Linked DNA regions of Homo sapiens: regions 2 and 3 are each linked to region 1. Evidence: fine-mapped expression QTL. A gene starts in region 1. Each other region holds a variant in brackets. All regions are shown on one strand. Distances are between the middles of the regions.

Region 1 (4,112 bases):
CGTCAGAGACTTTATGCCACGCTCACATGCGATACACTCACACACTTCAACCCCTCTGCTCCTTTCTGTCCCCACCTTTATTCATCCTTCCAGTCTCAGTTTAAATGCAATTTCCTCAGCCAGGCTTTCTCACCCACTAATCATCACATCCTGTTCTTTCTCATCATGCATTAACCACACTTTACAACTGCATGTTTTCATATGCTCCTTTGTTGAGTGGCTGTATATCTAAAGACTAAAAGCTACATGAAGGCAGAGATACTATTTTTTCCCCAATTGCATACCCATTGAAGTATCACCACATAGTCGTTGCTCAAAAGTTTTGAGCCAATCAATAAAGGCTTACTTTTTTCTTTACCCACGGTTCTTGGGAAATGCACTATGTACTTCAAAGCTGCTGTCAGTAGGCTGGACACCTGAAGGATATGGTGGAAACAGTGGTAATTGTTGAGGCCGGAACATACTGATTTGATCATTATGTATACTGGTGGATAATTTTGGAGAAGTCACATTTAACTTATCTGAGTTTGCTTTCCTATCTATAAAGTCTAGAGACTGAACTAGATTAACTCTAAAGGCTCCTTCTAAGATTGTAAATGACCCAGTGACGATTAAAGAAGAAAGCAGGTCACCAAGAATGGCATATCTTGGGGTAGGTTAGCCTGGATGATCTTGCTCTAAATCTTTTATATTTGCCATGAAGCATGAGCTTTGGCTACTTGACATGGGGCACAAATGATGGGTCTCAGTTCCATCCCGTGTGAGGCTCCTTCAACATTCTATTGCCCCAGCCAACTGACAGCACAAAATTTCCACTTTCTTAAAATTGCAACTCCAAGCGAAAGACTACAGAGACCCCCTCTAAATCTTCAAAACAGCCAAACCATGATTCATAAAACATTAAGGCAAACTTACCTTGATTCGAGGCATAGTAACTGTAGGTGGCTTTGCTTCAGCCACAAAACTGTGAGATGCTCCTTTTTCCACAAGGTAAGTTGTGTAGGGCATAAATTTCACACCCTTTGACCCAAACACAAAATCATCTCTCAAGGCATCTATCAGAACAATAACAACTTTACTGAAGAGAGGTGGTGGCAGCGTGGTCCAGTTAGAACTGGCTCCTAAGTGTTTGAAAGAAAAAAAAGGAAATTGAACTCTAAACTTTCCTTAGCATCAAGCACCTTCACAATCTAGCTTCTACCTACTTCTCCAGCACATACCCTGCGATATCTACATAACCCAACCCAAAAGGAGGCGACTTGTACTTGGTAGGTAGTGCTGGGGGGAAAGGACGGGGGTTAACAGGAGTAATCTTAGGGACCCACAGTAGCAAGCAGTGAATTATCCTCAGTATGGTGAAGAGTACTGGGGTAGGAGAATCCCTACGTAAGGGTCCTGGAATGGGACATTTAGGGAGCTTGACCTAAAACGCAGAGCTGCAGCTACGGGATGGCTGGGCGTTTACATACTGCGTTTACATGGTCAGCGGCTGGCGATGTGTGCAAGTGGTCCAGAACCAGGGCGCCTTTACTTGCTGTATATGGCTGGGTAGGTGAAGCCTAGGAAGAGGCCTAACGCAGAGAGGCCTTAGCCCCTAGGCAGGGAAAACATCTTGGAGGAATATAAGAGACCAAAACGCGAGGGGATCGGCAGGGGTCTTATCTGTTGTGTGCTAGGGGGCAAAAAGGGCGCCTATAACGGGGAGTGACCCAAAGGCTGCTCAGGAAAGGGGCGGGAGCTCTGGACGAGTAGAAGTGGAGAGGCTGGATCCCAGGTATGGACACAGCTTACTTTGTGGTGATCAGGAAGGAAGGTCGAAGTGGGGCCAGTAGAGGTGGTTGCCACAAAGTTGTAAGAATACAGAAAAGAGACGCTGGAGCGGTTAAAAAAAATTTCTGAGGTGGGGACCATAATGGAAGAGACCACCGGGGAGCGCCGAGAAGAAATCCGAGCAGCGAGGCTCAGAAAAAAGGTCTTCTAGGGGATGTGGGGTCAGGGGAGCGGAGACGCCGGGGAGGGGTCCGTACCAGCCGAGGGTTCGGGCGCTGGGGGCTCCGCTCCGTGTTCCGCTCTGGCAGAGGAACGAACGGGAGCCGGGAAGAATCCCCGAAGGAAGACCGCGATCCCTAGCACCTCGATCGCTACGCAACAGGTAGCGAAAGTCCCGGAGCCCAGCCGCATCGTGGACACGCTAGGCTGGATGCGGAACCGACCCCACCTGGAGCCTCGCCCTGCTGCAGCCGCGCTTCCGGCTCCAGGTAGCCGCCTCTAAGCAATAACGCCAGGCCTTATCGTCGCAGCGACAGTGGCGTCACGTCCGCCGGCGCGCCACAGCAGCGCGTCACTTCCGCCAGCCCGCCACAGCGGGGCGTCACCTCGGACATACGAACAGCGGGCGGTGTTCCCGGCTCCGTGGGGCCGTCTTCCCGGCGAGTCCGCGACGGTCGCCGCCCACGGCGAGGTACGAGGTTTTAAAAAGTTTTTAATTTGGAAGGCAGGGTGCAGTGGCTCACGCCTTTAATCCCAGTACTTTGGGAGGCCGAGGCGGGCGGATCACGAGGTCAGGAGATCGAGACTATCCTGGCCAACATGGTGAAACCCCGTCTCAACTAAAAATACAAAAAATTAGCGGGGCGTGATGGCGGGTGCCTGTCGTCCCAGCTACTCGGGAGGCCGAGGCAGGAGAATCGCTTGAACCTGGGAGGCGGAGGTTGCAGTGAGCCGAGATCGCGCCACTGCACTTCTGCCTGGCAACAGAGCGAGACTGCGTCTCAAAAAAAAAAAAAAAAAGAAAATTCAACCCAATACCTCAGACAACTGGTAAATATCTTAATGATTAACTTCGTTTTAAAGATGCCACATGAGTGAGATCATGAGGTATTTGTCTTTCTGTGTCTTATTTTGCTTACATGATATCCTCAGGTTTATCCGTGTTGTGGCAAATGATAGGGTTTCATTCTTTTATTAGAGCTGAATAGTACTCCATTGTGTATATATACCACATTTTCTTTTTTCTGAAAGGAAAATCTTGGGGCCCCAAAATTACTAAACTAAGGGAAAAGACAAGCTCGGAACTGCTCAGGACAAACCTGCCTCCCATTCTATTCAAAGTCATTCCTCTGCTCACTGAGATAAATGCATATTGATAGCCTCCTTTGGAGAGGCTTATCAGAAACCCAGAAACTGCAACCATTTGTCTGTCACCTACCTGTGACCTGGAAGCCCCCTCCCTGTTCCAAGTTGCCCCCGCCTTTCTGGACAGAACCAATGTCCTTCTTTTTTTTTTTTTTTTTTTTTTTTTCTTTTTCTTTTCAGATGAAATCTCACTCTGTCGCCCAGGCTGGAATGCAGTGGCGTGATCTCAGATCACTGCAACCTCTGCCTCCCGGGTTCAAGCAATTCTCCTGCCTCAGCCTCCTGAGTAGCTGGGATTACAGGTGCGTGCCACCACGCACGGCTAATTTTTGTATTTTTAGTTGAGACGGGGTTTCACCATGTTGGTCAGGCTGTTCTTGAACTCCTGACCTCGTGATCCGCCCGCCTCGGCCTCCCAGAGTGCTGGGATTTACAGGCATGAGCCACCGCGCCCGGCCTGTTTTTTTTTTGTTGGTTTGTTTTTGAGACGGAGTCTCGCTCTGTCGCCCAGCCTGGAGTGCAGTGGCACCATCTCCGCTCACTGCAAGCTCCGCCTCCCGGGTTCACGCCATTTTCCTACCGCAGCCTCCCGTGTAGCTGGGACTACAGGCGCCCGCCGCCACGCCCGTCAAATTTTTTTTTTTTTTTTGTATTTTTTAGTAGTGACGGGTTTCACCATGTTAGCCAGGATGGTCTCAATCTCCTGACCTCGTGATCCGCCCGCCTCTGTCTCCCAAAGAGCTGGGATTACAGGCGTGAGACACCGCGCCCTGTCCGGCCTGTTATTATACATATGATTGATATCTCGTGACTCCCTAAAATGAATACAACCAAGCTGTGCCCCGACCACCTTGGACCCACGTCGTCAGGATCTCCGGAGGCTGTGTCATGGGCGTCCTTAACTTTGGGAAATAAGCCTCCTGAAATGATTAAGACTTGTCATTTTTCTCGATTGACATTGATAAGCACTGAGAGAT
Region 2 (4,112 bases), 38 kb before region 1:
CTGATCTCAAACACCTGGGCTCAAGTGATACCCCCACTCTGGCCTCCCAAAGTGCTGGGTCTCACTGAATTTTTTTGTTTTGGAAAATATAGTTACTTTTCCTTCAAGTGTTTCATTAATATGCAATAGATTCCTTATAAATGAATACTTTTTTATCTTAGTTTTCATCTCAAATGCCATAAACACTGATACATGTAACCCTCATAAACCAAAGCGCCTTGGGGCCCTCAGTGGTTTGTAGGATTCTAAGAGCTCTGTGCTCCCTAAGGTAATCTGGGTGCCTCCTCCCACAGAGCTCCTGGACTCTAACAAAGTCCAGAACCTTTTCATTCATTGATTTAAACACACATATTTGGGTCACACCATAGCTTATTCAGAGGAAATTAAAAGTTCAGAAGCTTCTAGAGTGATTGTCAATGGGGGAAAATATGATACAAACTGTATATTAAAGTGATCTTTTATTAAACTATTTACTGCTTAGTCTAAATTCAGGTAGAGCAGTCAAAGAAAGTTATCCATCAACTTTGTTGAATTCATATCTTTCATTTTAGAATAACAGCAGACTTTAAGCATGTATTATTTTTCCAGTGTTCAGCTTAGTCTAAGACTGTGTGAGTCTGGTTTGATCCATTGCCGTGAAGAATACACAGACAGCAGCTGTAATGAGCAGGTGCATTCCCTCGTAGAGAAGTTTTGGAGAAAATACACTCCATATAAATAAATGATAACGCAGAGATGTCACCAAAACGATGTACGTGAAAACTGGAATAGAACAAATCAGTGCGTAGCAGAAGCAAGCATGACTCAGTGCTGAACCACTGTTAATAAGAAAGAAAATGTGTATTAGCACATGCCACTTACATATCACACATGTAACAACACTTTTATTTTCAAAAAGACTCCAGTAGCTCTTGCCCTTGGAGTAGAGGGCACCGCGTTCCTTCTTCTGCACACACATCCAGTCACTATGGTGCTGGGACAGGTGCCTCTCCAGATGCGCTGGAGACGGGAAAACCCAACCTGCCCCCTTGGAGGCTGTGTTCTAGTGAAGGAGGCAGGAGAAACCAGATATGTAACATGTCAGGAAGAGACAAATTCATGAAGAAAAATGAAGCAAACAGAAGGATGGGTGAGGGCCACCATGTCCCCCCCCACACACACCTTGAGCTCTCCAGAAATGCTTCTGAAACTTGACTGTATGTAAAAATCACCTACAGTATGTGCTGGAAGTGCCACTCTGGAGCCCCCCCTACAGAAATCTGGATGTGGTTGGTCTGGGGTGGGCAGAGGTCTGAGTCTCCAGAAGGCACGGAGGTGCCCGAGGGGACATGAGCTGCAGCCCCAACTGCTCAGCCACTGTCTGCCACCGTCATCTGTAAAACAGCTCTGAAAAACGCACCCCCCAGACTTTGCAGTTATTTAAAAATTATATATGCATGTGCTACTATATCACATGCATTATAAAATACAAACGATGAATAGAAAATCACAAAAGGGTGAGATACAAATAAACATAAATACAAGTTCTGAGCTTTTCTCCCTGCTGTGGTGTGGAGGACTGTCTGGTCTGGGGACACTGGCCCAGCGGGGTTTGCTGAGCAAATTCTCGGAATAAGAGCCACCCCTCGAAGTATGTTAATGTACCCCCTAGTTTTGAAACCACCAACACACTACATAAATCTCTTCCTCAAAGCAACTTCCCTGAGTCTGTGATTATTGAAAAATGATAAATTACATTATTTGGGCACTTTCCATGCCTCATCCATGACCTCTGATCAAGTTCTGTTAGAAAGGGCCCGGAGGCAGCCCCCAGATCCTCAGTCCTGTCGGCACGTGTGTGTGTCTGGGTGTGTGGGTCCCGCTGCATGTCCTGTAAAGGGCCCCTCGGTCCTGTCAGCACGTGTGTGTGGGTGTGTGGGTCCCGCTGCATGTCCTGTAAAGGGCTCCTC[A/G]GTCCTGTCGGCACGTATGTGTGTCTGGGCCCCACATGCATGTCCTGTAAAGGGCTCCTCAGTCCTGTCAGCCCAGCAGCTCCACCAGGTATTACTTGAGGGTGTCCTGTAAGTGGCTCCTGCTTCAGTGCTCACTGCTCAGGAAAGGGTGTCAACAGCCACGAAGGGCCAAGGACGGGGCTGTCTCTGGCCCCTCCACAGCCTCACCTCAGCCCCCCACCGGCTCCCCATCTCAGGCCTTGGAGGGGCCCATCCTCCTCTTGGCTTCTCCAAACACTCCTTCACCTCAGCCCGCCATGTGCTCCAGTAAAATACTCAGACCCTGGGATCTCCCGGTGGGTGGCCGGTGCCTCTGGTCCTTTCACTGCTTTCCTTGCCAGGCCCTGGCTCCTTAGGCGGGTCCCCCAAACCCGTACCGCTGGTCACCACTTGGTATCCAGCCCCACAGGCCGGGGACCCCACAGGGAGGTGGACCCCAAGGTATCCTCAATACACCTCCTGGTGACAGCAACACCCAGGAAAAGGTGAACATACTGGGCAGGAAGATTCGTGGCTAAGTGGGCCGTGGCCCCATCCTACCCAGACAGCGCATGGGGAAGCTGTGGCTTAGACATGGCACCACCTTGACTTCAGTTTAACACTTTATAGCGTTACCCACCTAGAAGATGGCGGCTTGCTGTTCCCACCACTTTAGCAAAGAGCCATTTGCGCTGCAGGGGAGCAGGCAGCCCGGGGTGCCAGCCCCTGGAACAGAGGGTCGCCAACCACTCAAGGCCACGTTTTTGACCTTTTGGAAACATATTTTCTCTGTCTACAATTTAGACCTGGTTATAGTTTTCCTACTCTACTGAAACAAAATAGAAACCATGAGTAAAACTTGATGCTTTAAACTTTTAAAAGGGAAGAAGAAAACCCTATAAAATGAAGGAGAAATGCTTCTTGACTAGGAAAAATATCATGATACTCTCCAGTTGATCAAAATGCTTTCACCTCACTTAATATTTGTCTTTTTCCCTCCCAAACACAAACGTGCCTGGCTGTGTAAGAGATGAAAAGTGCCTGGTCCATCAAACCGCAATCTGCAAGCACCAGGGCAGCTGCAAGGCCGAAGACCAAACCTACAGAGAGAGGAGCCGGGCAAGTACTTCCAGCCCTCCGTCTCCAGCTGGCCACTGGGAGGTGTGCCGTCCACCCAACAGGTGCTTGATCACGCCGCGCACAGCTGTAGCACATCCGTTCTCCAGGGCAGAGGCAGATGCACCTCCACGCGCTCACGCCCGCTTGTCCTGACACCTGACCACACGACGTGCTGACAGCCCACCCCAGACGGCCGAGGACGGCGTCTCCTGTTTCTGTAAGGCCAGTGTGAGCACGCGGCTGGCCTCAAAACCAAGTCAGAGAAAGACGTCCCAGGGCAGCTGCTGAGACAGGCGGACGCCGAGCAGGGGTCTCGTGGCAGATGTTTGTTTTTATGCAGAATCGAAGTCTGGAAGGACGTCTCCACACAGCGCCGCCACAGTGGGTGTCTCCCAAGCTGGTCTGTTGGTGGCTTCCGCCCGCAGAGCCTCAGCTTTCTGCTGTGATGACAAGCTCAGCGGTGACTGTAAATTACGGGGGTCTGTCCACAGACTGCCCCAAAGTGGGCGTGTCAAGCGTCCACAGGCACCTGAAGAAAAGGCAGGTGGATCTCAGGCATTCCTGTCCCCGGGAAGCTTGCAGTCTGGCCAGGGAGCGATTCTCCCCTTGGAAAGGCTCCATGTCCGCTGTGGGAAGGCACGCGCCTATCACTGCTGAAGCAAGGCCAATGCTCCCCCGACCCCTTACGGAAACCTGTGAGCGACTGAGGGGTCCAGCCCGGGCCCGCCGAGTCTGCGGGGCACGAACACTTCCACCATGGTGGACGGTTCCTCTGGCTCCGAAGCACTCATGCTGTGAGAGCCTCAACACAGGACGTGAGCGGCGAGGGGCTCCTTTCAGGGTGGGAAAAGCTCAAAGGCAGGCACGGGTGTGCGTGCCTGGGTGCGTGGGCCCTGCCCGCATGTCCTGTAAAGGGCTCCTCAGTCCTGTCAGCCCGAGGACACCTCTGCGGAATGTCGACAGGGGGCTGGGCATCTGGGTCTGGAGGCAAGGCCAAGGGTCCCTGTGGCCTGGGTCTCAGGAGCT
Region 3 (4,112 bases), 32 kb before region 1:
GGAAGTGCACTAAGTGGCTGGCCCACAGCACAGGCCCTGCGTACGTCCCAAACGCTGTCAGGAGCACGGCTGGGATTTCCACGTAGGTGTCTAAGCCCACGAAGCCTGCGGAGATGTCCACGGTGGCAATGTTGTTGGAGTTGCCCTGGAATACAGGAGAAGAGCTGACAAAGGCCTCACAACACGTGGCATCAACAGCCACGATGTTAGCGTGAGCCACGATGTTAGCGTGAACTGTGTAGGCAGCCCAGATAACCACGCCGGCACGGACACACGTGTGGTCAGAGGTGGCTGCCCAGCCGTTCCTTCAGACTGCCGAGCTGGCCTTGCCTAGGTGGCACCCCCTCCCCCTGCCTGCAGTGCCCAGGCTGCGGAAGGGCACGTGAGCGGACCGTGCAGAAGCTGGGGCCCCCTCTGAAGAGGGACGCACACACAGACCGGCTGGCTGACTGTGCCACATCTAAGACCCTTGTCCAGACCCATCGACTTAAGACAAGCACATGAAGCTCCCCTCAAGGACCCCCATCCGAGGGGCGCATAGGGCCCTGAGAGGCCAGCTGCTGGGCCCAGCCAAGCGGGGAGCTGGGCTGAAGACTAGAACGGGCACCCAGCCAGGTCCCATCTACGGTGAGGTGCTGCCAGTGGGTTATATGGTGGAGGGCAGGCCAGCCACTGGGGGAGCACAGCCCCTGGTGCAAATTGGTAACTCACATCTGGCTTACGTATCAGACCATGAGGACTCACTTGGTCTGGTCAAACTTCATCTGTCAAGGTTCTGGCCAGTCCCGGCCCAGCCCTGGTAGGTAACTCCCTGCAGGATGCAAGCGCTGATGCCACACAGCTTACCCTGCTCCTAGTGATTCTGGATCCCAAAAAGGGGTCTTCTGAGAGACCCTGCCTCTCTGCGCAGGCCCCGCCTCTCCACTCCAAGACCACACCTTTCCACTCCTAGGCCCTACCTCTCCATTCCTAGGCCCCTCCTCTCTGCTCCCAGGCCCCGCCTCTCCACTCCAAGACCACACCCTTCCACTCCTAGGCCCCACCTCTCCATTCCTAGGCCCCTCCTCTCTGCTCCCAGGCCCCGCCTCCCCACGCTCCATCTTTACTGACTCTGATGTCTGTCACTTGCCTGTCATGCTGACCTTTCCTCAGAAACTCATGACATCTACAGTCCGACAGCACATGTCTCTATCAAGCTCAACGAAGATCCCTCTCCAGAACCAGAACTGTTCATGTCCACAAAACACTGGCTGGGTGCTCACCAGCTTGGCTCCTTCCTCCCTTTCCATGCAGAGAGCTGTGGGCCCAGGGGGTCCCCAAGTCATGTTGATGCTGCTTCCCCATTATCTCACAGATGTGCATTGACTCCTATCCCTGTTGTCTTAGGCCCCAGCCCTTTGACTTGGCTTGCCCTGAGACCCACTGGACTCGCAGCTACTGCCTCTCTTGGACGGTGCCACCCCAGTCATGTGTCTCCTCCACTTGGAAGCTCTTCTGCAGGGAGACTGAGGAGAGAGCAAACAGGCAGAAGCAGTAGGAGACCCTGGAGGGTGGCAGGGGGACAGAGTCCCAGATGCCACGATGGGAGCAGGGGAGGAGGACACCTAGGAGGTCACTGTGGCTCTGAGCAGGCTCAGCCAAGCACAGAGACTGCCAGCCATGCTGACATGTCTGCAGCTGCACAGCAGCTTTACCTGCATGACTTCATCTAACCCAACAGTCCTGATGTGCTTCGTGATTATCCTCATCAAACAGGGAGGAAACGGAGGCAGAGAGACCCAGGGACTGGGCAAATGTGGAGGGCCAGCAGATGAGCAAGGGCAGTCATGTTCCTGATCCCTGATCTGTTAAGGAACTGCCCAGTCGAGGGCAGGAAGTAGGGATGGGCAGCAAAGCCACAGGTTCCTCTCAGAGGAGATCTAACACTGAGGGGCAGCGGACTCAGCCTCAAAACAGGGGCCACGGGGAGGTGGGGAGACCAGGGAGGGCTGGGTCCTGGGGAGGCCGGGAGACCACTATCCCTGGTTTACAGATAAGGAAACGAAGGTGTGGCAAGAGCCTGCCGGAGGCCACCTGGCTTGAACGTGCTGGATACCAGCATCCAGGCCTGCAGTTCTGCTGGGGACACCCTTGTGCCTTG[C/T]GTGGACATGGCAGGGAGAGCTGCAGCTGTGTACGAGGAGGACAGGGGCCTGAGCGGATCAGAAGGGTCGGGGAAGCACCAGGACGGGGCTAAGAAGCTGGCCATTGGCCACCTACTCATTGTACCTGAAGACACAGACTTCTGTAACTTCACGCCTACCACCTTTGGGCTTCAGGATCAGGGGGACAGACATAAAGACAGAAAATCCTGCAACTGTGGGCTGTTCCATGGGAAAGGCTGGGAGCACCAGGAAAGGAGAAGAGGATGGAAGAGAGGCCCTGTAGGGACACAAAGAACTGCACATGCCTCCTGGGTACGAGACAGCGGACAGGCAGACACCGGTGCACACCAAGAAAATACAGACCTCACGGTAGAGACCAAAATGCAACCACGACGTTCAGCTGCTGCAAAGCGACTCAGCCTGGGAGTCGGCACTGGAAGGGAACCAGCAGGGCTGTGCCTGCTCTCCTGAGGTTGCCGGGAGGCTGGATGAGGCTGGATCCCTCTGAGGCCCCATCTGGCCTGCTCTCCTGAGGTTGCCGGGAGGCTGGATGAGGCTGGATCCCTCTGAGGCCCCGTCTGCCTGTCCCTCTATGTCTCTTCAAACTGAGGTGGTTTGGGCTTGTCTGGGATGGGTCTTTAAACACCGGACAGAAGCCCTGACGACCCACCAGGCTTCAGGGAGCTAATAATCATGGGGGCACCAATGGTCCCCAGTGTGGACAGCCCCGACACCAGGGGCAAAGGGCATGAACGAGAACAATTATTACATTCATCAGTGAAGCAAGTGAACAACGTGATGTCTGTGCTTCCTGAACTGCTTGTAATAAATAAACCCAGGCCTGGCCCAGCAAAGCAGCAGTCTGCTGTCTTAAGCACCCACACATCCACACCTGGGACGCGTGTCTTAAACAACCGGCTGTACTTTGTCTTATAAAATACACGAGAGTTCAGCGTAATTCACCATGCCACACTGACAGTCACTTTCCAACTTATGGGAACATTTTCTCAAAGAAAAATTTAAAATAAATATGTAAAACATGAAGTCTACTACCCATGATAATAATGAAAACCTACCTGAAAATAGAAGAATGCTTGACCAAACCAATAATGCATCACAGTAATCTCAGCTGCATCGTGTCTCAGGGGCTTCCAGATGAATTTAGTCATTAGAGTCTGAATCAAGAGGCTAAATGCTAAGACCGGAAGATTATGTGGTCTAAAGAGCAAGGCTGCCAGAAGAACTAATCCACTATATATCTCCCATAAACCTACAGTCTTGAGTTTGAAGTCTGCAGCAATGACTTGAGATTTAAGTAAGTCTTTGGTGCCCGTGAACAGAATGCCAAGGACAAAGACATAAACAAAACGAGCTTCAATAATACCCCTAAAAAAGAGCAAAACAAGTTAGATTCATTAGCACCAGTGAGAAAAATTCAAAAACATTTTCCCATGAAAAACACACCTATCTACCCAGGGAACCAGTAAATGTCCAGCACTGCTGACTAAAGGAGCCGCGGCACCCTCCCTACCCCCCAGGTCCTGTCATGGCAGTGGGCATGTCTCCTCCGCACAGCAGCCCTGAGGAGCCGCCGCCACAGGCCCACAGGTGTGTCCTCGTGCAGACTCTTCCGCTGGGGCTGGCTTCGGGGAGATCTTGCTCATTTGGCTCATCTGGTGGCACGACCCAAGCGGTGCCCTCGTGGCCCGCCTGCTTTGCAGTTAATTAAAAAAAACCCAACGCACTAGTATAAGAGTCAACTCTAAGAAACTGCTGTAAGTTCATAAATGTTCATTGCACAACTGAGCAGATTTAAAGAAGGATTTGCACATTTACAGGTACACATACATGCAGTTATAGGTAAATAAGCACCTGCACATTCACAGGCACACACGCGTGCAGTGGTGCAGTCATCCAACCCGCGGGCTCTGAGAAAAGGCAGAGCTCTGCTCAGTCCGAGCCCTGCTGCTC

Alleles and levels. Alleles are on the strand shown, and positions count from the first base shown. SD is a standard deviation of normalised expression in the study named. Not every link is listed here.
With allele G in place of A in region 2, the expression in adrenal gland of the gene that starts at base 2,307 in region 1 is higher (moderate effect, 0.56 SD a copy in GTEx).

Evidence for each region. PIP is the estimated chance that this variant, and not a neighbour inherited with it, causes the effect.
Region 2: its variant is fine-mapped to the expression of PIGG in adrenal gland (GTEx, PIP 0.91).
Region 3: its variant is fine-mapped to the expression of PIGG in blood mononuclear cells (TOPMed, PIP above 0.99).

The regions. Positions count from the first base shown.
Region 1 is chr4:497,405-501,516 of GRCh38, reverse strand. PIGG (phosphatidylinositol glycan anchor biosynthesis class G (EMM blood group)) reads right to left here and starts at 2,307. Exons shown (of 13, transcript NM_001127178.3): 1 at 2,028-2,307; 2 at 916-1,121. The coding sequence starts at 2,181. ZNF721 (zinc finger protein 721) reads left to right here and starts at 2,361. Exons shown (of 3, transcript NM_133474.4): 1 at 2,361-2,461. RefSeq lists enhancers at 1,346-2,209, 2,167-2,646, 2,210-3,075.
Region 2 is chr4:535,859-539,970 of GRCh38, reverse strand. It overlaps PIGG (phosphatidylinositol glycan anchor biosynthesis class G (EMM blood group)), which reads right to left. Exons shown (of 13, transcript NM_001127178.3): 13 at 1-818. The coding sequence ends at 602. Among named protein-coding and RNA genes, the nearest start is that of TMEM271, 38 kb to the left of the region's middle. The variant A/G (reference allele first, on the strand shown) is at 1,950.
Region 3 is chr4:529,851-533,962 of GRCh38, reverse strand. It overlaps PIGG (phosphatidylinositol glycan anchor biosynthesis class G (EMM blood group)), which reads right to left. Exons shown (of 13, transcript NM_001127178.3): 11 at 3,218-3,527; 12 at 1-145. Among named protein-coding and RNA genes, the nearest start is that of PIGG, 33 kb to the right of the region's middle. The variant C/T (reference allele first, on the strand shown) is at 2,141.